Homo sapiens: one gene and its partners. The protein of the gene in region 6 purifies or fractionates together with the protein of the main gene of each other region. This does not show direct contact. Each region holds a gene or a part of one and is shown on either strand. Other genes may lie near its edges. The genes, in order: SNRNP200, NCDN, PRPF6, SLU7, CDC5L, EAPP and ISY1.

What was found.
Region 1: the proteins of EAPP (region 6) and SNRNP200 purify together in Homo sapiens (affinity purification with mass spectrometry; 4 studies listed by BioGRID and IntAct, with this or other methods). This does not show direct contact.
Region 2: the proteins of EAPP (region 6) and NCDN purify together in Homo sapiens (affinity purification with mass spectrometry; 2 studies listed by BioGRID and IntAct, with this or other methods). This does not show direct contact.
Region 3: the proteins of EAPP (region 6) and PRPF6 purify together in Homo sapiens (affinity purification with mass spectrometry; 3 studies listed by BioGRID and IntAct, with this or other methods). This does not show direct contact.
Region 4: the proteins of EAPP (region 6) and SLU7 purify together in Homo sapiens (affinity purification with mass spectrometry, with the first as the bait; one large-scale study listed by BioGRID). This does not show direct contact.
Region 5: the proteins of EAPP (region 6) and CDC5L purify together in Homo sapiens (affinity purification with mass spectrometry, with the first as the bait; 2 studies listed by BioGRID). This does not show direct contact.
Region 7: the proteins of EAPP (region 6) and ISY1 purify together in Homo sapiens (affinity purification with mass spectrometry, with the first as the bait; one large-scale study listed by BioGRID). This does not show direct contact.

The regions. Positions count from the first base shown.
Region 1 is NC_000002.12:96,299,047-96,302,546, forward strand, and holds part of SNRNP200 (U5 small nuclear ribonucleoprotein 200 kDa helicase), read right to left. Parts: intron 2,671-3,500; coding exon 2,478-2,670; intron 2,008-2,477; coding exon 1,952-2,007; intron 382-1,951; coding exon 283-381; intron 1-282. UniProt on the Homo sapiens protein: Catalyzes the ATP-dependent unwinding of U4/U6 RNA duplices, an essential step in the assembly of a catalytically active spliceosome. Plays a role in pre-mRNA splicing as a core component of precatalytic, catalytic and postcatalytic spliceosomal complexes.
Region 2 is NC_000001.11:35,560,799-35,564,038, reverse strand, and holds part of NCDN (neurochondrin), read right to left. Parts: coding exon 2,745-3,240; intron 1,648-2,744; coding exon 1,406-1,647; intron 838-1,405; coding exon 613-837; intron 273-612; coding exon 130-272; intron 1-129. UniProt on the Homo sapiens protein: Probably involved in signal transduction in the nervous system, via increasing cell surface localization of GRM5/mGluR5 and positively regulating its signaling. Required for the spatial learning process.
Region 3 is NC_000020.11:64,001,632-64,005,131, forward strand, and holds part of PRPF6 (pre-mRNA-processing factor 6), read left to right. Parts: intron 1-3,500. UniProt on the Homo sapiens protein: Involved in pre-mRNA splicing as component of the U4/U6-U5 tri-snRNP complex, one of the building blocks of the spliceosome.
Region 4 is NC_000005.10:160,412,582-160,416,081, forward strand, and holds part of SLU7 (pre-mRNA-splicing factor SLU7), read right to left. Parts: intron 2,730-3,500; coding exon of another isoform or gene 2,714-2,729; coding exon 2,544-2,713; intron 1,892-2,543; coding exon 1,738-1,891; intron 1,399-1,737; coding exon 1,318-1,398; intron 1,040-1,317; coding exon 875-1,039; intron 1-874. UniProt on the Homo sapiens protein: Required for pre-mRNA splicing as component of the spliceosome. Participates in the second catalytic step of pre-mRNA splicing, when the free hydroxyl group of exon I attacks the 3'-splice site to generate spliced mRNA and the excised lariat intron.
Region 5 is NC_000006.12:44,394,206-44,397,705, reverse strand, and holds part of CDC5L (cell division cycle 5-like protein), read right to left. Parts: intron 1,366-3,500; coding exon 1,266-1,365; intron 1-1,265.
Region 6 is NC_000014.9:34,522,702-34,526,201, forward strand, and holds part of EAPP (E2F-associated phosphoprotein), read right to left. Parts: intron 2,107-3,500; coding exon 1,996-2,106; intron 1-1,995. UniProt on the Homo sapiens protein: May play an important role in the fine-tuning of both major E2F1 activities, the regulation of the cell-cycle and the induction of apoptosis. Promotes S-phase entry, and inhibits p14(ARP) expression.
Region 7 is NC_000003.12:129,126,915-129,130,063, forward strand, and holds the end of ISY1 (pre-mRNA-splicing factor ISY1 homolog), read right to left. Parts: 3' UTR 501-3,149; downstream 1-500. UniProt on the Homo sapiens protein: Component of the spliceosome C complex required for the selective processing of microRNAs during embryonic stem cell differentiation. Required for the biogenesis of all miRNAs from the pri-miR-17-92 primary transcript except miR-92a.

The DNA of each region.
Region 1 (3,500 bases), on a different chromosome or scaffold from region 6:
TACTTGACAATCCATAGCCCACCTTCTTGTGAGGACTTTCCAGAGGAAAAAACTCTGGAATATTGAGTTCAGAAGCACACCAGACTAAGATTTCATCAACATACATCTTTGGGAAGGAAGAAAACCGACAGAAATTTTAAGAAACTCTAGACACTAAGTGTTTATTATAGTTCACTCCAGCAAAAAGTGGCTCAATAAATGTAACAGGACCTAGGCATGGGGAAGAAGCACTAACACCCAGAAGTAACCTTGTAGCAATGAGGAAGAGCAAACTGAACTTACATTAGCCGAGAGGGTGCAGCGCACGACAGCCTCGTCCCCTTCCATGTCATCATCAGATGCCTCTTCTCGAACCTCCCCGTATACGTCTTCATCACCTTCCTGTGGAAATGACCCCAACTCAACCATGATCTGGAGCTGATCCTGCATCACCACAGAACCTCTCCCTCAAGTCACCCTAAATTAGCTCAATGGGTAGAGAAATGGCTTTGGGGTGAAACCGAGAGCCTATTGGAACCAAGGTCAGCCTTATTCCAGTGGACATAGAATGACTGCTTAGCACGACTTATTAGATATATCTACTTTCTATTTCTCACCTTAGGCTGCTACAATGGCAATCAACTGGATCATAGCCTCTCTCTAATACACACACAATCAACACTCAAAAACAGTGATCAGCTAAGGAGAAAAGAGCTATACAGAGGCATGCCTGGGAAAGCAGGTGGTGACTCCGGAATGAAGAGATCGCACTTAGCCTGCTCACCACTCTATTTACTCATACACTGCACATTAGGCGTACCTGGCATAGTGTCACAGTCAAAACAGGTACTTCAATAATGAGCACTGTTAAATGAATGAACTGCTAAAAGCAAAGCAGTTTGTTGCTACTTAAAATCATCAAATCCTATTAACTATACTGTAGGAAGAGGCTTAGCAATCACCTATTGAAATGGCCTCATTTTATAGAAGGAGAAACTGAAGCAAGATGACCTGCCAAGATACAGGACTCAAACTCAGAAGTCTTGGCTCCTAGTCCTCTGACTCTCCCCGTGCGACCCCTTCTTCCAGCCTTGGTATATATACCGGGGCTCCATTTTCCCTTTCAGGAGCCACTTCTACTCACTGAGAACTCTAAGGCACTGTAATTTTCTCAAAGTACCCCACTTATTCCTATTTAGTTATATTCAAGGAATTCTATTAGACAGTAAACATTAACCCCAGTGACTTAACCATGTACAAACTATGTCTGTGCTCTAGGGCAAATGTGCAATCTTTTAGTCAGATACAGTAATGAAAAATGGGAAAATACTGTAATAAGGTTAAAATGCAGTAAAACATAGCAGATACATTCTCAATGAAAGTATACACTGTACTTTAACTTTTTTCTTTCTTTTTGCTGATCCACTTGGTATATTTTAAATAATTATATTGTGGCCGGGCGCAGTGGCTCACACCCGTAATCCCAGCACTTTGGGAGGCCGACGGGGGGCGGATCACCTGAGGTCAGGAGATCAAGACCACCTTGGCTAACACGGTGAAACCCCGTCTCCACTAAAAATATAAAAAATTAGCCGGGCATGGTGGCGGGCGCCTATAGTCCCAGCTGCTCGGGAGGCTGAGGCAGGAGAATGGCGCGAAACCTGGGAGGCAGAGCTTGCAGTGAGCCGAGATCGCACCACTGCACTCCAGCCTGGGCGACAGAGAAGACTCCGTCTCAAAAAAAAAAAAATTATATTGCTTTACATTTGTTAGTTTAAATTTGCGGTAGCAAAGTTAAAAGATAACTGCACTTTTTTTTAAGCAAAAGAACATATAATGCCCAAGTCTGAAACCCATACAACACCATAAAATTTATCTGGTTTAAACTAGAGAGCTTGTTTACACTAGAAGGGGTCCCTTTACCTTAATCAACGTCAAAAACAAGAATGGACTGGGTATGTTTATCACTCACCTCCTCATCAGACTCAAACTGCACATTCACACCGTATGTCTCATCAATGTTGTCATCTGAAACAATGAAGGATTAGAAAAAGAGGGCAGTGAATGGCTAGTAAAACAAGGCACTCTGGAGCCAATGTCCTCCCCGACTACCTCTCCTCAGGAAAGATCTAAGTGCTAAGGACACATACAGATACTTAGATGATCAACATGAGAGAGCCACCTATGCTGCTCCTGCCAAGACCTTCTCCACCTGCCAGCCTTGGAGTCAGCCCAGCTCTGCTTGCTCAACCACTTGAGCCCCCAAGGCTCTGCCCACATTTTCTCATATTCCACACAATAAAAGGGTCTCAGAGTAAGGAACAGCTGCTGGAATCTAGGGATTCTGGTGTCCATCAATTGTAACTCTTCAAAAAACACAGAACAGATTATGGGAACTCACTGACATTAAGGTTTTTAAATGAATGATGCTAGAAGATGCATGTTTAGGGGTCAACAACAACCAATGAACATGATCAGAACATAAAGCGCGCACTTACCCATATTTTGGATTTCCTTATCTCCACCATAGTCTGTGATCTTTTTGCCCAGGTTCACTAGCACATGGTATCTGGTATCATCTGTTTGACCCAGCAGCAGGTCAATCTCCTTTCGCCTTTCCTTGTCCCGCAGCTTTTCATTCTTTAGAACAGCTAGAACTTCATCAGCTGCCCCACAAAGGATATCACGTGGCTGGTGGCAAGAAACAACCAACCAATATTGAGAACGACGACAGGCAAAACATCTTCAACCAGGTGTATGTGGCGGCAGGATGTGAAGAGCCACACCTCTTCAAAACCTGCCACATACTAGGCTCTGACCTTTCTCATTAATGCTGATGCCACAACTAAAGGAAGACTTGTCTGTTTTTAAAAAGATTAGCTAGGTGGCCTCAAGCAGCAGGACACAGCTTCCACAACAGCTTGCCACACTCCAGGTGGTAGTCACTTGGCAGACCTCCTCTAGCTTGCCACACTTTTGTAATTCTTTGTCCTCACTTCCTCTAGCACCCACCTCAACAGAGCTCCTCAGACTCATAATGGTCCCCAATCTAATCACACATGTGTAATGGTTAGGAACATGGATTCTAGAGATAAACTATCTGGATCATATCTTGGCTCTGCCAAATACTACTTCTGTGACTCGGGAAAATTACTTAACTATTCTTGCCTCACATCTCTCTTCTATAAAATGGAAAATGAATATTAACAGCACCTATTCATGGAGTTATGTAGGGTTGGGGGAAGACACGTGCTGTTCCACACAAATCGAGTGCTCAGTAAATATAAGCCACTTCTGCCAACCAGTACAGCCCACAAGAGGATCCAGAGAAAAGGTTCAGTCTCCCAGCTGTGACCCTCTCCCTTTCTGACACATGGTCTCATCCTCTGGCCACCTCACTCTGAGAATACTGAAATAAAGCAAACTTGTTTTTTTCTATACTCTCACAACAATTAACACAGAAGGCTTCTGTGACAATTCCTCCCCACCAGCAACCAATCCAAAAATTGTGCAGTGGACAC
Region 2 (3,240 bases), on a different chromosome or scaffold from region 6:
CAAAGATTTCCTCTTGCTTAGAAAATGCTGCAAAACCATCTTCTAAAAATGGTGACTTTTGCCCCAAACACAGGAGGTCCACCCAGGTCTTCTGTCCTCACCCATCAGGACTGGATCCCCAGTTCTTACCTGGAGAGGTGCTAAGGAGCCGGGCCATGAGGAGCCCCAGGGTGGCCACATTAGCAGCCAGAAGCAGCCTTCCCTGTTGCTGCACTAGTGCTGGTAGCGACGTCATGAGGGTGTTCATTAGAGATGTGAAGCAGGCGTCACGCCTGGAAAAGAAAGGGGGGAAGGATGGAGGTAGGTGGGGGTCTAGTACAGCCAAATCAAGCCCTTGGCAAGAAATTAGGCAGTAGGGTGATTAACTTTGGGCCCCAAACATAGCATCTGGGGGGCAGAGATTGGAACAAGCAGACATGCTGAGACAGTACCTGGGGGTTCCAGCATGCCGAATCCTTGTGCGGGGCTGGCTATGTCTACTCTGAGACCCCCATGCTACCACTAACAAATCCATGGGCATGGGGGGCAAAGTAGGAGACTGAGAATTGAGGCAACTGGGCAGCCTCCTTTGCCTCCTCCGGCCTCCTCCCCCACCTCTCCCGAGCCCCTCACTTGATCAGCCCCGGTGCGGTGACCACGAGGTTGAGGAAGATGTGGCAGCAGGTCTGCAGGCCAATCTCCACGCTGTCAGGCAGCACCGAGGTGTCGTGGCCAGGGGATGTGAGTTCCCACTGCTGCAGGAAATACTTGCACAGAAGCGAGGGGGCCCCTTCCTTGATCAGGATCTCCCGGGGCCCATCTTCAACGGTCAGGTGGCACCAGCCAGGCAGGAGGAGCCTGGGGATGTGGAAGGGACAGACGTGTGTGGGATTGGGAGAGATGAAGGCACATAGATTCCCTTTTTAGGGCACCTTGCCTAAGAGAAATGGAAGTAGGGGAGAAGGACACATCCTCGCAGGTACCACAGAAAAAGTACAAGCTTCAGAGTCGCACAACCCAGGACCAAACTTGGGCTCTGCCACAAAGTGTGACTGTGGGCAAGTGACTTTAATCTCTATGAGCCTCAGTTTCCTAATCTTTCATATGTGAATGAGACTTCTGTTATATTTACCACGTGGACCAAATGAGATCATTTTGGTAAAGGGTATAGCAAAATACCTGGCTCGTAGTAGGTGCTCAATAAGTATAAGTTCTCTTTTAACTGAGAAATCTGGGGTTGGCAAGTGACACCTGGCAGCCGAGGAGTCCTGTGGGAACAAGCCCCCCAAAACAGAAATAACCCTAAGGGATATCTCATGGCCCAATCAGGAAGCCTGGCACAGCTCAGTTTGTGGGGAGGGGTGTCCTTGTGTTAACGCTTTTCGGTAGAATGATCTAGCTGGACAGACTGTAACTACAGACTCACCGGAGAGCGTCTCCTGGCCAGGTGGGCCCTGGGGTGGTGGGGGAGATGGCCAGGTTGGCCACCTGCTGGGAAAGGTCATTGGCCTCCTCGGCCTCCTCGTAGAGGGTCTTGGCATAGCGGACGAGGAAGGGCAGCAGCTGGCACACCTCCTTACGCAAGGATGAGGTCTCCTCGGCCAGCCAGGCACCCAGGATCCGCACCGAGGCAAACACAAAGGGCTCCTTCTGCTTCTCTGACCCCACCTGTTGCCACAGGACCCCCTTGAGATGGAGCAGGACCAGGGACCCTCCCTGCCTTGCCAGAGGCCAGCCAGCTAGAAATAATACAACTAGAAGGAAATTCTGGCCTGTGAGCCTTTCAAAGGCAGGCCCCAACCTTTATTCTGTCCCATGAACCCAGCACCTAGCATGTGGTAGGGACGCACACAAGGGACTGGCACAGAGTGAGCCAGGCCCTCCACACACGTCTGCTGAGTGAACTGGGCCTGAGTGAATTGAGTGACATGCCCCCGTACTCGCTGAGGCTCCAGTCACATCTCCCTAACTCCCTACCTCTGGAGTGTCTCAAGGCTAGAAGGAAATTCATAGGTCAAAAGCTAAGTTAAACACCCTTTACAGCAGCTCTGACCTGGGGTGGGAGGGCAGGTTCCTGGCTACTGTGTAACTGCTCCCAATGGTGGGAGTGAGGGGATGCTCTCTTTTGTGCTAAGTCAGAAAAAAGACATGAGCTTAGCGTGGTGCATGGAATATATGGCTGGTGAGCTCGGTGGCTGGAGCAGGCCATTAAAGAGACCAGAGTCATGACTGAATCCCTGTGGGACAGGACAGCTGGCCTCTCAGGCGGGGAGGCAGGAGGGGATGTAGGGGAGGCAGGCGAATTGATCTAGCCAGACCTCTATAGAGGCCAGGAACCAGGCAGCCCTGCTTCTCTTCCCTGCACCATTAGAAGTTCGGGTGTGTGCGTGTATAAAACAATGCTATGGAGTGAGCAGAACAGACTGCTTCAATCTTGTGTGCATGTGTTGGGGAGAGGTGTGTGGCGTGTAGTGTGTGTGTATTGGGGGGAGCGTTTGAGTGGGAGGTTACTGTGTTGTGTGTGTGTGCGTGTGTGTGTACTGTGATGTGAGTGCACATATGGTGTGTGGTATGGTGCTTGTGTGGAGGGAGGGAGAGAGAGGGAGGTTGGGCCGCACACTACTCCCTGGAGTGCTGGCTACAGTATCAGCTTGTGTGGACATGCAGCTTCGCTGTCTCCCCATTATTCTCCTCCCCCTTGCCTCCCAGCTCCAGCACTGGCTCCCCCCATACTGGGCCCCCTCTGTGGGTCACTGCACCCTCACCTGCAGCAGGTAGTGGATAACAGCCCCTATGGCCTCCTTCATGACGCTCACGAGCTGCACCTTCTGTGGCTCCTTAAGCAGTGACTGCTCACAGCGAGTGCATTCCTGGATCCCCAACTCCATGAGGGCATAGCAGGCGGTCACCACATCCTCTTTCACCTCCGTGCCCGTCTCCTCCAGTGCCAGCCGCACTTCCACGCACGCCAGATTCACCAGCAGGGCCAGGAACTTGCTCCCGGAGCTGCCCGCCGGGATCCAGTCGGAGCCGCAGGCGTGTGCCAGGCGGGCTGCCAGCTTCAGTGCAGGGTTGCGCTGCCAGGAGCTCAGCTTGCTTCCCAGGATGCGTGCCAGCCCGGCCTGCAGATCCCGGTAGCATTCAGGGGGCACGGTTGTCGGGGGCAAAAAGAGGGGCAGCAGCTGGCAGAGCTCAAACTTGCTGGCATCCTCAGCTTTCTGGAAATCCTCACTGAGGCCCCGCAACACGGCCAGCAGGTCG
Region 3 (3,500 bases), on a different chromosome or scaffold from region 6:
GTGGGTGTTACTCATTTTCTCTCCTGAGAAGGCACCAGAGCCACACGTTGATTGAACTCTTTCCTGCTGCTGACGAGGCTGTGCCTTCTGCTCCCGCGATGCAGCGTGTGCCGTCAGCTCAGGTCAGATAACGACAGACGGTGTGCCTACCAGGCAACCTGATTCCATCCAGGGATTCCTGCCAGGGTAGAGCTTTTGTGGGTAGTTTGTTTATTTTTATTACTGTGGATTCATAAAAGGAGCACTGTTTCTCCTGTCACTGGAAGTGTGTAGTAGATGCTGCTCTTGAACTGGGTCCAGAACGAGTGCTAGTCAGGGGGCTGTTCTGAAGCTAATCTGTGCAGGTGGCTTCTTTTTTTTCATTTTTTGTTTTTTTTTTCTGGTTTTTTTTTTTTTTTTTTTTTTGAGATGGAGTCTCGCCCTGTCGCCCAGGCTGGAGTGCAGTGGCGTGATCTCGGCTCACTGCAAGCTCCGCCTCCCGGGTTCACACCATTCTCCTGCCTCAGCCTCCTGAGTAGCTGGGACTACAGGCGCCTGCCACCACGCCTGGCTAATTTCTTTTTGTATTTTTAGTAGAGATGGGGTTTCACTGTGTTATCCAGGATGGTCTCGATCTCTTGGCCTTGTGATCTGCCTGCCTCGGCCTCCCAAAGTGCTGGGATTCCAGGCGTGAGCCACTGCACCTGGCCTATGCAGGTGGCTTCTATCCATTTTTTTTTTTTTAGACAGAGTCTCGCTTTGTCGCCCAGGCTGGAGTACAGGGGCACGATCTTGGCTCACTGCAGCCTCTGCCTCCCGGGTTCAAGTGATTCTCCTGCCTCAGCCTCCCGAGTAGCCGGGATTACAGGTGTGCGCCTCCATGCCTGGCCAATTTTTGTATTTTTAGTAGAGATGGGGTTTCCCCATGTTGGCCGGGCTGGTCTCAAACTCCTGACCACAAGTGATCCTCCTGCCTTGGCCTCCCAAAGTGCAGGGATTACAGGCGTGAGCCCCTGTGCCTGGCCTTTTCTTTTCTTTTTTTTTTTTTTTTGAGATGGAGTCTCACTTTGTCCCCCAGGCTGGAGTGCAATGGCACCATCTTGGCTCACTGCAACCTCCGCCTCCTGGGTTTAAGCAATCCTCTTGCCTCAGCCTTCTGAGGAGCTGGGACTACAGGCACCTGCCACCACGCCTGCTTAATTTTTGTATTTTTAGTAGAGACGGGGTTTCACTGTGTTGACCAGGCTGGTCTTGAACTTCTCACCTCAAGTGATCCACCCACCTCGACCTCCCAAAGTGCTGGGATTACAGGCGTGAGCCACTGTGCCCGGCCAGATTTTTTTTTTTTTTTTGAGACAGCGTCTTGCTCTGTCACCCAGGCTGGAGTGCAGTGGCACGATCTTGGCTCACTGCAGCCACCACCTCCCAGGCTCAGGCGATCCTCCCAGCTTAGCCTCCCAAGTAGCTGGGAGTATAGGTCCCACCCCCATGCCCAGCTATTTTTAATTTTTGGTAGAGATGGGATCTTGCTGTGTTGTCCAAGCTTGTCTCAAACTCCCATCCTCAAGTGATCCTCCTGCCTTGATCTCCCAGAGAGCTGGGATTACAGGCATCAGCCGTCGCATCCAGCCTATTCTTCCTGAATTTATAGCCTAGGAAAAATAAAGTGTATTTTATGGAATCAAGGGCAGTTTTCAGTGAGAGCTTTCCAGCTCTTGTTTTTCCAAATGTCTTTAAGCGAAATATCCCATTGAGGCTTCTGTGCTGATAGGACCGTGCAGATGAGGGCTCTTTGGTAGAAAGCCCCTTATCAAATATAGTTTCATTCACTTACTGTCTACGTCTGTTAGAAGACAGGTGAAGGCTGCTTGCCTGTGATGCATGTTCCCCCGACCCTGTGCACTCACATGTGAACGTGCTTTCCTCTGTCGAGGCTGGTTTCTTGACCGCAGCCCAGCTGCTCAGTGAATGCTCAGAGACAGCCTCTTTTATTTTTTTTTATTGAGACAGAGTCTCGCTCTGTCGCCCAGCCTGGAGTGCAGTGGCACGACCTCGGCTCTCTGCAAGCTCCGCCTCCCAGGTTCACGCCATTCTCCTGCCTCAGCCCCCCAAGTAGCTGGGACTACAGGCGCCCGCCACCAGGCCTGGCTAATTTTTTTTTGTATTTTTATTAGAGATGGGGTTTCACCATGTTAGCCAGGATGGTCTTGATCTCCTGACCTCATGATCCACCCGCCTCGGCCTCTCAAAGTGCTGGGATTACAGGCGTGAGCCACCGCGCCCGGCCAGAGACAGCGTCTTATAATGAGGTGGCCAGGAACAGAAAGTTAGCACCTGTCTGGGTTTGTAGAAATCAGTTTATCTTTTTTCAGCTAGGAAGAAATAGTTCTTTGATGAAGAGCCCATGAAAGTCTGGGTAATTAGTATTGTTTACTTAGAAAAGCTCTATTGAATTCTTCCTGCCACAGTTTGATGAATGATCATGAATGTCTTTGTGGCCACTCCCTGCTCACCACCAGATTGTCTGGGTTCATTTCCAGTTGGTTTGGATTTGGAGATGGGAGTATGCTGTTGGAGGCGGGGGCCTTCGGGGAGTGTTGAGGGACTGTGTTTCCACGGCTGTTCTCTCAGGGAGTGGCCTCCTGGCTGTGCTCTCTCAGGCAGAGAAGCTGGGCTAAGGTGGAATGAACCCAGGATCTCCAGGATGGCCTTTGCCGCTGCCCTAATACTGGTCCTGGCCTGCCCTTTCCCAAGAGTGTTTCCAAAAACTGTATTCTTTTCCTGGGGTGAAGCCCAGCACTGCTTCATTTGGTTATTAGCAAACACTTACACGTTGCTTGAAGGGTCTGGTTTTTGAAATTAAGATGACAGCTACTTCCACTGGTGACTTAGGACACCTGCCAGCCAGGGAGCCTGGCAGTGCATGGTCTCTGTGAGCTCTGGGTCGCTGTTGGGCTGAGCTGACACCTTAGTCCTTTGTTGGGAGAATGGGCGTTTTGGGTGCTGATCTTGAGACCTGAGGAGGCTGAGTAACCTTAGGCATGGTGCTTGGCCTCTGAGCTTCCATGTCTTCCTCTGTAAAAGGGAAGAGGGCTTTCAGGATTGGGGAGGGTGCAGCATGTGAGCTTCCTGGCCAGGGTGGGGTGTCCCACGTGCAGAGTCCCCTGGGGAGGCCCGACTGGCAGCTCCCCTACAATAATGCACTCACATGCTGTGTACTCCGCTAGTTAATGCAGATGTGTGGAAGTGGAGTTATTTTACACTAACGCCATATGCTCTGGCCTGTGAAGCGTGGCATCCTTCAGTGGCCGTCGCCAGCGTGTCCCTCTGGGGGCACAGGAATGGCACAGTTCAGGTTGAGGGTCTTCCCTGCAGTCACGTGACCCCCGGAGAGCATGTTGGCCTCTGCACGGTCACGTCTTCATGGCTGTGTCTAGCATTCAGAATACTCTTCTGTTCTAGGCCAACTTCAGGGGTGTGTGCTTCCTCCACTTCTGCTCATAAAGTCACACTCCTTGAAG
Region 4 (3,500 bases), on a different chromosome or scaffold from region 6:
ATTCAAGTCACCACCTAAATTTTTATATATTTAAAATGAATAACTTTAAATTAATTTATTTCAGAAAAGGTCACTGAACAAACCTATCTCTTTGGGATTCCTTGTAGCCCTAGACCTATTACTCTATAAAGAGCAGGAGTTACACAGTGTTTGAACCAGGCATTAATGTAAACTGAGCCAAATGGCATCAGTAGTAAATTGCAGGGAGCAAGCCCTGACAAAAACAAGCAGTTGCCACAGAACTCTAGATGACTGACTCTTACCAGGCAGGCGTGGGGTTACCATATATTACAATATTCAAGAAAAGATGAAATCCAGATTTTTATATGAAATCTTATAATTTTAAAATGATACCTCTAATTAAAAAAAAAAGGCAGTGTGACTATGACTTCAAAGGAATAAGGGTGAATAGGTCAAATCATAACAGTAAAAACTGAAGTTGGGTTAAAATAAAATAAAATTTTCTGAAACAAATTATCCATTCCCTTTCTACTACTCCCAAATGCTATGGGAGGCAACTATAAAATAGGTTCATGGGCAAGCTATAGCTTGGGGCCATACATTTCTAACCTCACAAAACCAAAAGCTTTGGACACTAATCTGTCTTCATGCTTCCAATATCTTTTGCTACCTAAGTCAGGGAGTAAAGGACCAATATAAGAATCAAATAAGAAGAAACTGCTGGCAAGTATGGCTAGCACACTATTTCCTTTACTCAATATTACAATTATAAAGGTAGCCTATACAGTAGTACTACTATTATAAAAATGCTACCATTTTTAAAGTGCTTCAAGATTTGAAAAGTAGAGCTGCTAGAGATACAGCAAAAGGACGATTCTTTAAAAACCCCAGGAAAGCAGGGAATTTTGCTCACCAAATCAACTTTGGCATACTCTTCAACAATTTTCATGTGTTCTTCTGGATTGTAGCCATTCCACCGATCCCTCTTCCCATCATAGTCAAACATCAGTTGAGGCTGGACATGTTCATCTGGAGCTATATTAGTACCTGTAAATTTGGCTCCAACTCGCCTAGGTCTCTAAAAACAGAGTAAGATTTAATCTTTTCCTAAGTTTTTATGGCCCAAAGGAAAACTTCATACAACTTTTACAGAGTGGGCACTTTACGATCTATTCAATTTACAGTTAGTCTTACAGTAGAAAATTTTGTTGGTGTTGAACCAATTCCACTGAAACTAATTTTTATTTAACTTGTACCTAAATATAGGTGATTTCAGAAAAAGAGAAGTTAGCTCTCTGACAAAGAAAAAAGAAAGACTCTGACAACGGTTTTCAAAATTTTCAAAGGTGAACTTACCTCAAAGCAGTCTTTCTTTTTGTGTGTCATGGCCCCACAATTTTCACATGCTCCTTTGCGGTACTTAGTAATTATGGAATTCTATAAATATATATAAAGAAAAACAAAAATGTCTTAACCACGTAAGTTAGAAATAACTTTGACTCTCATTACTATTTTGTCTAGGGAAATGATTTCTTTGTTAAAAGGAAAATAAGTTAGAGTCTCCACACATTTATAAATGTGAAACTTTAAAGAGTTCAGGAGTGTAAAATTTATATAAGAAACACAAAGATAAAATAGTAATGCACTGTGAATTTCAATACCAGATAAAGGGTTTTATTATCTGTTTCTACTTTAAATAGTATTGCATTAAAAATTCTTACATTAAGTTCTTAAACTCTCCATATCCATGAAGATGTATACAGGTTGCCTACATACCTCTTTTACACCCCTCTTGTACCATTCTCCAGATGAGCTGAACTGCTTTTGTTTTTCTGGTTGTGGTCTCTGGTGTTTTAAAGTAGGTCTTTTTGAAGGATCAATATACCATGGCACTGAAGAAATATACTGAGGAATATGGGGGTTGATGTCTCTGTAATTAAAGTAAAAAAAAAAAAAATTTAAGGATAAAATTGGAAAATAATCAGTATTACAATTACAAAGGTAGCTTATACAAAATCTAAGAACAGAAATATTGCAGTGGTAGGGGGAAGAGAACAAGGTTGCTATCTCTATACTATAATAAAGAATAATTAAAAATAAAGAAGTAATTTATTTTAGAGTGAAAATATTTCCAACTAAGAAACTAAGAATAGTGATATAACTGAAGGGGGACAAGAGAGGAAGGAAAATAGAGATGTGTGTTAGTAATCTAAATCTTCTATCACAAGAAGTTTTGGTTCAAATAATGTCTATAGTCAATTAATTAAAATAATTGTGTAGGTATTATTATCTAGAGATGTGACGGTAACAACCAGAAAAACTCAAAATAGAAAGATTTCATAGCAGTCACTTCTGTAGAGCAGGCCAGGGGTGGGAACGGTAAAAAAGGACTGTTGCTATTCATTATAAGCCCTTCAACATAATTTCATTATTAAACCATATGCATATGAGTTTGATAAAATAAAAAACAAAAATGACATAAATGAAGAGAGGTTCCTCTCAAAGGATGAAAAATTAATAAACTAAGTAGACATGAATTTGAATTCTGAATGAATGGATCATACAAAAAATTAAGTACTTACTTTCCTTCTTCATCAACTTCTGCAGGAGCATTGCCCAATTTTCGCTGTTCTTCTAGCTCCTTCTTCTTTCTCCAGTCCTCTCTGGTCATCTTCTTTGGTTCTTCCAAACTCATTTCTTTGGACCCCGATAGGGGTGCAGCATTAACTGCATCTACAACTGTGGCTGACATGGTTATCTGGCCTCCTCTAGGAAAAGAAGTGAAACTTACAGTAAAAAGTAGGCCTTCATGAATTCACTCAAACTACCAAAAATACATCCTAATAATATATACTGTTTCATATGTTTTTTTTTCTCCTATATTATGTGTAAGGAAGGGTCTCTTCCCCCTCCTCAAGGTCTCTACATACTGTTAGCACTGTTTCTCTCTCAACTCCAATTTACAAATGGAGAGAGACACACACGTGTATTTAAAATTTCACAGGACTCTTTTCTCATATCCATCCTTAATCCCTCTTTCTGTGTATGTCTCAAACTTTTCTAACACAGTAACTCTTAATGAGAGAAAAGAGGGTCCTATCTCTGTACCCCTTCAAGAATGAATATCTCAAGAGTTATCTATATTCACTGCCTCCATTTCCTCACCTTCTATTTTCATCCTCACTCACTCTAACTTAGCCCTCCATTCCCTACCATTCTAAAGAAAAGAGTTACATCATTAAGTCATCAAGGACCATTGTGCTAAATCCAATGGACATTTTTCAGCTCTGTTCCTTCCCTTTTTATATATTATGTCTTGACTTCCCTGACACTACATTCTCTTGGTTTTTCTTTTTCTTTTTTTTTTAGAGACAGAGTCTCGCTCTGTTGCCCAGGCTGGAGTGCAGTGGCATGATCTCAGCTCACTGCAACCTCCGCCTCCCAGGTTCAAGCGATTCTCCTGCCTCAGTCTCCCGAGTAGCTCGATTACAGGTGCCCGCCACCATGCCCGGCTAATTTTTTCGTATTTTTTGTAGTGA
Region 5 (3,500 bases), on a different chromosome or scaffold from region 6:
TGTTTCACAGCCAGTGCCTTCCCAATACCAATCAAGGAAAGTAACTAATTGGCAGTCATACAAAAGACACATAATCTTGTGTGTCCTACAGTCATCTGACTCCAAAATAGCTACAACAAATGAAGCTCTCATATGCCAACAGAACACACTCAACATACTGGATAAACTGGGCATTACCTCTGCCATAGCTTCAATTTTTTTTAAATATGGTTTTCTATAAATATTCTGAAATGGTTGGGGGAAAAAAATACAAGATAGTTTCAGAGAAATAAAGAAGGTAAAGAATACTAGCGAAATAGGAACTGGACAATTCCAATTATTATTCACCCAACGGGTTAATAAATCATGCAGTTTTATTGGTCCTAAGGATGCCTAGACTAATTATTGAACTATGAATGGAGACAAGCACACATTGTGAAATAATGTATTTGGTCTTCATCCGTTTCCAACAATGCAACTCCTAAAATCCTGGGACTCTTCCAAGTGAAAAGTGTCTTTCTGCATGTTAATGAGTTGACTGATAGCTGGCAGTCACCAGAAAGACCACGGCAGGATTAGAGGGCTTGGGACTTTCAGCCACAACCCCCAACCTCAGGGGAGGGGAGAAGGGCTGAAGGTCGAGTTGATAAGCAATGGCCAATGATGTAATCAATCTTGCCTATTTAATGAAGCCTCCATAAAAACCCAAAAGGACAGAGTCTGGAGAACTTGTGGGCAGCCAAATACATGGGGGCTTCCGAAAAGGTGAACAAGAACACACCCACTGGCTGGGAGGGTGGCATATCCCAACTTCAATGGGACATAAGCACCTGCACTCAGGACCCTTCCAGGCTTCACCCTGTGTATCTCTTCATGGGGCCGTTGATTTGTATCCTTTAAAATATCCTTTGTAAATGTGGGTGTTTCCCTGAGTTCTGTGAGTCCTCTAGCAGATGAATGGAACCCAAGGAAGGGGCAGTGGAACCCAGCTCGCTGGTCAGAAACACAAGCAAAATAACCTGGGGTTTAGGGTCAGCATCAAAACTGGGGTTCAGTCTTGTGGGACTAAGTCCTCAACCTGTAAGATCTGGAGCTATCTCCAGGTAGACAGTATTAGAGTTAACTGAATTAGAGGACACCCAGCTATCCACTGCAGAATTGATTGCCTGATTGCTGGTGGAGAGGGGAAAAAAAAAAAAAAACCACATATCTGGTCACAGAAGTATTCTGTGTTGATTGTTATGTGAGAAAAACACTTTGCTTTTTATTCCTATATCCACACATACCTTGCTTCTTCCAATTGTTTCTCTCTTGCTTTCCTCTTGGCCTTCTTTCCCTGAGTATTAGCCAAGCGGGCTCTGGCTTCAGAAAGCATCTCAAGTTCATCTGCAAAAATTAAAAGAAGAAAAACTAAGTATTTTCTTAGTTCTTACATACTCTAGAAGCAAGGTATGTAAGAGACACTCTATTGCTCAAAATGAGAAAAAAACATAAAAATACTGATTTTATGGTGTAGCATAATGGAAACAGCTTGAGTTTTGAAGTCAAAGAACCTAGGTTAAAAACCAGGCCCACCACTTGCTAGCTATGTGACCTTAGTCACTTACTTACCCTCCCTAAGCATGGTTTCCCTATAAAATTCGAATAACAATTCCTATTTCACAAGGATTTTGAGAAGGGCTAAGTAAAACGAAATATGTAAAGCATCTCGCAAGCATTCATTAAACAGTGGCTACAATTATTGTATCCTTCATTATTATCAACTAACTGGCACAGCACAAATTGTGAAATAGGGTAAAAACTATTTAATTATGAGAGAACAACTATCATTAGATACTTTTTTTTCCCCTCAGAACAATTTCTCTCATCCAATACATTTTTCGTGGCTCTATAGAATGGAATAATACATGCCACTATTGATGCCTTAGAACAATTCCTATGCAAGGCTGTCCAACTAAATCACATGGGAACTTGTAAAATACTCAGATTCCAAGATCACTGCTCTTCCCGTGCCTCCCACACCACCCCAGATGTACTGACTCAGTATATACAGGAGAAGCCCTGATATTTCTATTTTTAAATGCTCCCCCTGTGATAATGATGCAGCCAGCCTAGCCACAGCCTGCCTTTGGGAACCACTATGTTCAAACTTTACATTTTAGAAACTTAACAAATATTCACTGAGTGCTTCACAACAACCCTGCTAAGGTAAAGCAGGTATTAGTATTCCCCATCTCGCAAGAAAGGGAATCAAAGCTCAGAGAGATTTTATGACTTGTCTAAGGTCAAACAGCTAATAGGTGGCACACACGGGTTGAAAATCCAATTCCTGATTCTGTTAACTGATACATCATACTTTACATATTTATAGGGTACATGTGAGAGTTTGTTACATGCATAGAATGTGTAATGATCAAGTCAGTATATCTGGGGTACCCATCACCTTGAGTATTTATTTCAGACCTCTCTTCCAGCTACTTTGAAATATGTAATACACTGTTGCTAACTATAGTCACCCTATTCTGCTATCAAACATTATAACTTATTTCTTTCCATCTACGTTTGTACCCATTAACCAACCTCTCTTAATCCCGCTCTCCCACCCACACACCATACCCAGCCTCTGGCATCTATCACTCTATTCTAACTCCATGAGATCAACGCTTTTAGCTCCCACATATGAGGAAGAATATGCAGTATTTGTCTCTCTGTGCCTGGCTTATTTCACTGAACATAATGACTTCTACTGCCATCCATGTTGCTGCAAATGACATGATTTCATTGCTTTTTATGACCAAATAGTATTCGTGTGTGTGTGTGTGTGTGTGTGTGTGTATACCATTTTTTTTTTTTTTTTTTTTTTTTTTTTTTGAGACAGGGTCCTGCTCTGTTGCCCAGGCTGGAGTGCAGTGCTTGATCTCAGCTCATGGCAAACCCAGCCTCCCGGGCTCAAGTGATTCTCCCACCTCAGCCTCCCCAGTAGCTGGATCTACAGGCATGCGCCACCACACCTGGCTAATTTTTGTATTTTTTTATAGAGGCAGGGTTTCACCATGTTGGCCAGGCTGATCTTGAACTCCTGGGCTCAAGTGATCTGCCCACCTCAGCCTCCCAACGTGCTGGGATTACAGGCGTGAGCCACCATGCCCAGTCCACATTTTCTTTATCCATTCACCCATTAATGGACACTTAGGTTGATTCCATATACTTTCTATTGTGGAATTCCTGATTCAATGCCTCCCAGAATCACTGTTAAGTCTCCATCACCGTCTCACAGGTTGCCTTCTCACACAGAATAAATAACTTGCCTATAGTCAAATAAGTAATTAATAGGAGGACTGAGGTCCAATATTCTGACTTGATGTCTCTCTCCATGGAATAGGAATGAGAAACAGGATCTTCAAGGGCTCACCTCTAGCCTCTGAAAAATCTACTCAGTAGAATTACACTACTCAGTTTTAAAGACAGGGTCTCGTTATGCTGCCCAGGCTGGCCTCCAACTTCTGGGCTCAAGGGGTTAT
Region 6 (3,500 bases):
GTGCTGCCTGTTCCAAATGAAGTGGGGGGTGGGTCCCAAAGAGGATAGGGATATCCCAGTAGGATGGGAATGCTGGCTAGGGGTTCACACTTGGGACCTGGCTTTGTCTCTGGCTATCCTTCTTTGTCTCTGGCTATCCTCAGGGATATTTTTTCCTTCAGGCACTCTCAGTGCTTCCTATGAGTTGAGGCAGGGACAGATCTCTTACCAGAGAACTCAAAAAGGTAAAGAAGCTGGTTGTACACTTCCATCTTACTTTTTCTAATGTAAAAATCATGAGCTCAGGGGAATTTTTCTGCTCACTTGGTGCCAGGCAGATTGTGGAGAAGGATAAGCAGATATGGAAGAACAATTCTCTTACTGTCTGCTTTAAGTTTTTTTTACTTCTCTGTGGCCCTAGAAACTGTCTCCTCCTTATATTGAGATCTGGGATACTGGTGGTGATAGCTTCAGTGCTGTATATTTGGTTTTGGTATTCTGCAGGGGGAAGGAGAGCCAGTTTGCTTCTATGCTGCTATTTTGCACTAGAAAAGATACCTTTTTTTTTTTTTTTTGAGACGGAGTCTCGCTCTGTTGCCCAGGCTGGAGTGCAGCGGCGTGACCTCGGCTCACTGTAAGCTCCGCCTCCTGGGTTCACGCCATTCTCCTGCCTCAGCCTCCGGAGTAGCTGGGACTACAGGCGCCCGCCACCATGCCCGGCTAATTTTTTGTATTTTTAATAGAGACAGGGTTTCACCGTGGTCTCGATCTCCTGACCTCGTGATCCGCCCACCTCGGTCTCCCAAAGTGCTGGGATTACAGGCGTGAGCCACCACGCCCAGCCCGTTTTTTTTTTTTTTTTGGAGAGAGAGATGGGGATCTCACCTTTGTTTTGTTGCCCAGGCTGGAGTGCAGTGGTGGTCACAGCCCACTGCAGTCTTGAATTCTTGAGCTCAAGCCATCCTCTCACCTCAGCCTATCGAGTAGCTGGGTCTACACGCATACATCACTATACTCAGCTAATTTTTTATTTTTTTATTTTTTGTAGAGATGAGGTATCACTATGTTGCCTAGGCTGGTCTCAAACTCCTAGGCTCAAGTGATCGCCTTAGCCTCCCATAGCACTGGGATTACAGGCATGAGTCACTGTGCCCAACTTTAAAAGTATAAAAGCTACATTTAATATAACTATATATAATCAAAATTAATTGTATAAAGATTAGTCACACAGCACCAAGAATCTAAGTACAGAACTTTATCAGAATTCCTGAGTACCTCAAAAGTCTGTTTCTGGGCTGGGCACAGTGGCTCACGCATGTAATCCCAGCACTTTGGGAGGCCGAGGTGGGCAGATCACTTGAGGTCAGGAGTTCAAGACCAACCTGGCCAACATGGTGTGACCCTGTCTCTACTAAAAATATAAAAATAAGGCCGGGCGTGGTAGCTCACAGCTGTAATCCCAGCACTTTGGGAGGCCAACGCAAGTGGATCACAAGGTCAGGAGTTCAAGATCAGCCTGGCCAAGATGGTGAAACCCTGTCTGTACTAAAACTACAAAAATTAGCCGGGTGTGGTGGCAGGCACCTGTAATCCCAGCCACTTGGAGGCTGAGGCAGAAGAATCACTTGAACCTGGGCAGCAGAGGTTGCAGCGAGCCAAGATTGCACCACTATACTCCAGCTTGTACGACAGAGTGAGACTTCATCTCAACAAAACAAAACAAAACTATATCTATCTATCTATCTATCTATCTAGATCTAGATCTAGATCTAGATACACACAAAAACTAGCCAGGCATGGTGGTGGCCGCTTGTAATCCCAGCTACCTGGGAGGCTGAGGCAGGAGACTCGCTTGAACCCACGGGGCGGAGGTTGCAGTGAGGCGAGATTGTGCCACTGCACTCCAGCCTGGGCAACAGAGTAAGACTCTGACTTCAAAAAAAAAAAAGTCTGTTTCTAATTTAAACAAAATATGTATGTGTGTGTGTGTGTGTGTGTGTGTCCTTCATCCATTACCTTTGGCAATCAAGGCAAAGTGTGGTCATGCAGGCAGGACAATTCAAGACAGCATCACTATTTGGAACAGGCTGTTGTTGACGTGATCTCTGTGGTCCCAAACCATGGTAACTAGAACAGAAGAAGAAAGTGGGGAGAAAAACATATTAAAACCAGATCTTGGTTTCTAGTGTCATTTTCCAATAAAAAGAACCAGTACTATTCAGAGAAATGGCTAATTCTAGGAATAAGGAACACAAGATGAACCTGGAGCATCTTTTAGTGCCAGAAAAGAAGGAAGTAATCAAGAAAACAAAAACAAAACAGTGAGGTGGTTATGACAAAGGGAAACAGGAGCCAACTGAACAAGTCACCAACTGCCAAAGCTGAAACTGAGCAACAAAATAAAGTAGGACTGGATTACAACCCAAAGTATAAATACCCACGAATCCACGCTAATATAAATGTACTGAATAAATAAATAAATGGAGGAGAACAGACAAATCCCCACACAGAATTCTAAATAATCTATAAAGATGCTCTTCCCTCACAGTGGTGGAGTATAACTCCCTAGTCCTTAAGTCTGGGTTGGACACAGTGACTTCCTTCCAAAGAGTACGGTATGGTAAGGCGGGGTAAAAGACTAACTTTACAGTAGAGAAAGTTAACACTGGTCAGCAAGGTGATCGAGGTCAATACCAACACACAAAACTCAGGTTGGTAGTATGTACTCTTGATATAATGTGAGGAAAATGGCTCTCTACTTCTATGTTCTTACTTATAAAAATCCATAATCCCATCCTAATTATGAGAAAAAACAACAGACAAATTCCAACAGAGGGGCCTCCTACATAGACCTGATTAGTGCTCCTCAAAGTAATTAAGGGCACTGAAAACAAGGAAAGTCTAAGAAACTGACAGAGTCAAGAAGAGCCCAGGGAGACATGACAACTAAAAGTGATGTACTATCCTACACGGGGTCCTCAAACAGAAAAAGAACAGTACATAAAAACTAAGGAAATGTTTTAAAATTATGGACTTTGATTAATAATAATGTATCAAGGCCGGGCTCGGTGGCTCACGCCTGTAATCCCAGCACTTTGGGAGGCCGAGGCGGGCGGATCACGAAGTCAAGAGATCAAGACCATCCTGGCCAACATGGTGAAACCCCATCTCTACTAAAAAAATACAAAAATTAGCTGGGCGTGGTGGCACATGCCTGTAGTCCCAGCTACTCAGGAGGTTGAGGCAGGAGAATCGGTTGAACCCAGGAGACGGAGCTTGCAGTGAGCCGAGATCACGCCACTGCACTCCAGCCTGGGCGACAGAGCGAGACTCTGTCTCCAAAAAAATAAAAAATAAAAAAAATAATAATGTATCAATATTAGTCCATTAATTGTGACAAGTGTACCAAAAATAAAAGTCCATGAATTTTTTAAAAACAGTAAAGCTACATTAAAAAACAAGCACACAGGCTGGGCATGGTGGCTCACGCCTGTAATCCCAGCACTTTGGGAGGCTGAGGT
Region 7 (3,149 bases), on a different chromosome or scaffold from region 6:
TTCTGGTGGAGCAGGTGGGCAGCAAGTGAGATGCCAGAAGGAGCTGGGTGCCGCTGCCCGTCCCCCTGGATCCCTCTGCTTGCTAGTCAGCTGGGTGCTGGGCCAGGCCTGATGTCCATCCAGGCGGGTTCCTGCTTTCAGTGCTGCACAGTGAGCAGGGTGAGGAGCCCCAGCTAGGGTCCAGATCCTGCCAGTGTTTCAGGGAATGGGGTGTGCATGCGCAGCACTGCAGAGCAAGTGCAGGGCAAGAGGAGAAAGGTTTTCATTTCTTCCTTGTTTATAAACTGCCCAAGGGCAGATGGGGTCAGCCAGTTGGGGATGCAGCGGGAGGAGGTCCAGGAGGCCTGGGTGGGGATGCTGTGACCAGTCTTAAAGCAAAACAGGAGGGAGGTGGTGTGTTTTAGACGCTGGAGGACAGGCAGTGTGAGGGAAGAAGGAAGTTGATGGAAACATGACTATGAAAAAGTAGCTTTTCGGGAAACCACAGGCAGAGCCAAAGCTAAAATAAACCATTCAGTAGATTTTATTAACCAAACAAAGCCTCCTGAGATTGGTTCTGTCACCTCGGAGCCACAAGCTGGGAAAAGATAACCACACCCACCCAGCCAGCTTCCCCCACCCCCAGCTGTTTCCAGGCCTGGGACTGGAGCCCTGCTGAGACCTTGTCCCACATCTAGGACCCTCTAGGGCCTTTGGGCACAGACAAGTAGCAAGGGCCTCTGCCAGGAACACCTAGAGGATGTCCAGCTGGGTGCTTCTCCACTCTCAGTCTGTTTGCTCAAATGTGGAATTCTAATCCCTGGCCAGTTTGCATCCCGGGGATCCCTGAAGAGATCCCAGGAGGGGAGTGCTTTGTGCACTGAAGGCGTGGAACAGGGCACTGGAGGAGGAAGACCCAGAGCCCTGGCTCTCAAGACAGGCCTGGCTCCAAGCACCTGCCATCCTTCCCAGGGAGAAGGAAGGCCTGATGTCTGGATTCCCCATTCTCTTCTGAATGCCAGGAAGCACCAGAGTGCGCGTGTGCCCCTTGGAAGACAAACCCACAACCAGGCCTGTCTGAGGCCGGCCATCCGCACGCTCCCAAGAGGCTCAGACCTGGGTCAGTCTGTCCCTAGGGCCCTCTGAGGCCTCTGCCCAAACCACAGGACTGCCCAGACCCCAGAGCAAACTGAGACAGCACAGGTCCACTCCTTGACTTCAAAGTATGGAAGGTGAGGCTGGGCCCAGAGGGTCTTGCTCAAAGCCCCCACGATATTCACTCCTGAGTCCCCACCTGCAGGCCCAAGCTGGGTGCTGGGTCCCAGAGGCGAGTCTGCCTTGCTGCCTCCAAGGGCTCCCAAAGCTTCAACCTGGACACCTCTCCTCCCTGCACACATTTGCCTCCGGGCTTGACTGAGGGCTGGGATTGGCCAGCCCAGCCCTCAGGGAAGCCAGGAGGCAGGGGGGCCCCTTCCCCATCCTCACCTACACCCTGGCTACTCCCATCCCCACCAAGCCCACCCACCTCCTGCCAGGGCCTCTGCCCCAGCCTCCTCCTGACCTGGTCCTGCCTGGGCCTCTCCTTGTGGCCGCACGGAGCGTCCTCAAGCAAGTCCCTTAGCCACTAGCTCCCGACTCCCTCACTCAGACCTTTTCCACAGTCCTTGTGGCCCTCGGGCTCCTTAGAGAGGGCCCAGCACTGGCCACTCTCCCGACTTGGCCACACACAGCCACACACGGCTCTGCCACCCCCAGTCTGAGCTGCTCCCCGCAGACCAACCATCCCAGGCCTCCCGCTGTGTGATGGGCTTCTCCAAGCCAAGAGTTCCTCCTATTCCCAAACAGCCTGAGCTGGAGCCCCAGGCCCCAGGAACAGCCATCTGGCCCTGACCCTGAGTTCCCAGACACTCCCATGACCCTGCAGAGGGCAGGAAGCCAGGCACCATCTTGCCCAGGGGCTACAGCCGCTGACCATGGTTCCCCACTGGAGAGCTAAGCCCCAGTTCAGAGGAAGCTCTGGACTCAGCTCGTGTCCACTGTGTGCTTTCAGCAGGCCACGGTGCAGCCCACTGCAAGGAGCCCTGTCTACAGCTGTGGCCACGGACGCCATGGTGGGTCGGCTCACTCCCACCTAGACTCCTGGGATCTGGTCCTGTCTTTGCCACACTTGGGGCTGGGGCTTCAGGGACTCCCCTGCAGGAAGGCAGTGCCCCTTAGTGACTGGTCACATCCTAATGCCACTGTCACCTCAGAGCCGTTGGCCCAGGGAACAAGCTGAAGACATGGAGGTTTCCCTTTCTTATAAAAATCTTTAATAAAAATAGGTTTCTGCAGAACAGGTTATAAAACAGGAATAGCAAACTCAAATTCCTGCCACCCAGGCAGGAGCGAGTGGAGCAGGTGGAGGGGGGCTAACGGAGAGCCCAGAGCAGCAACCAACACAGAGGGACCTGGTCATTGACTTGTGGGTTGCGTGCATCTTTTTTTTTTTTTTTTTTTGGGACAGAGTCTCACTCTGTCGCCAGGCTGGAGTGCAATGGCACGATCTTGGCTCACTTCAACCTCCACCTCTCGGGTTCAAGTGATTCTCCTGCCTCAGCCTCCCAAGCAGCTGGGACTACAGGTGCATGCCAGTACGCCCAGCTAATTTTTTTGTATTTTTAGTAGACATGGGGTTTCACCATGTTGGCCAGGATGGTCTCCATCTCTTGACCTCGTGACCCGCCCGCCTCGGCCTCCCAAAGTGCTGGGGTTACAGGCGTGAGCCACTGCGCCTGGCCACATCATCTCATTTTTCAAGAGATGTGTCTTTTAGAAAATTTGCATTTTTTAAAATTATACTTTGGTCTGCAAAAAATTGCATTTTTAAATGTTTGCCACTAATTGATTCTTCTCCCCTCAAAATGGCAGTGCAAGTCAAAATAAGACACAGGCAGCCAGTTCGCAACCTGTTGTATACACTCCACAATAAAAATAAATGGATCCACACAGTAGCAAAATATGTGTACAAAACCTACCAGGAAGACCAGGGACAGACCCCTACCCTCCGGTCAACATGAGACAAGGAGAGGGAAGGAAGGCTGAGAATGGGGCAGGAGCCCTTGCAGCACCAGCCTGTGTCTGCAGCCCTGGGTCCTGAGGTACCACTGGGGGATGGAAGAACTCCAAGG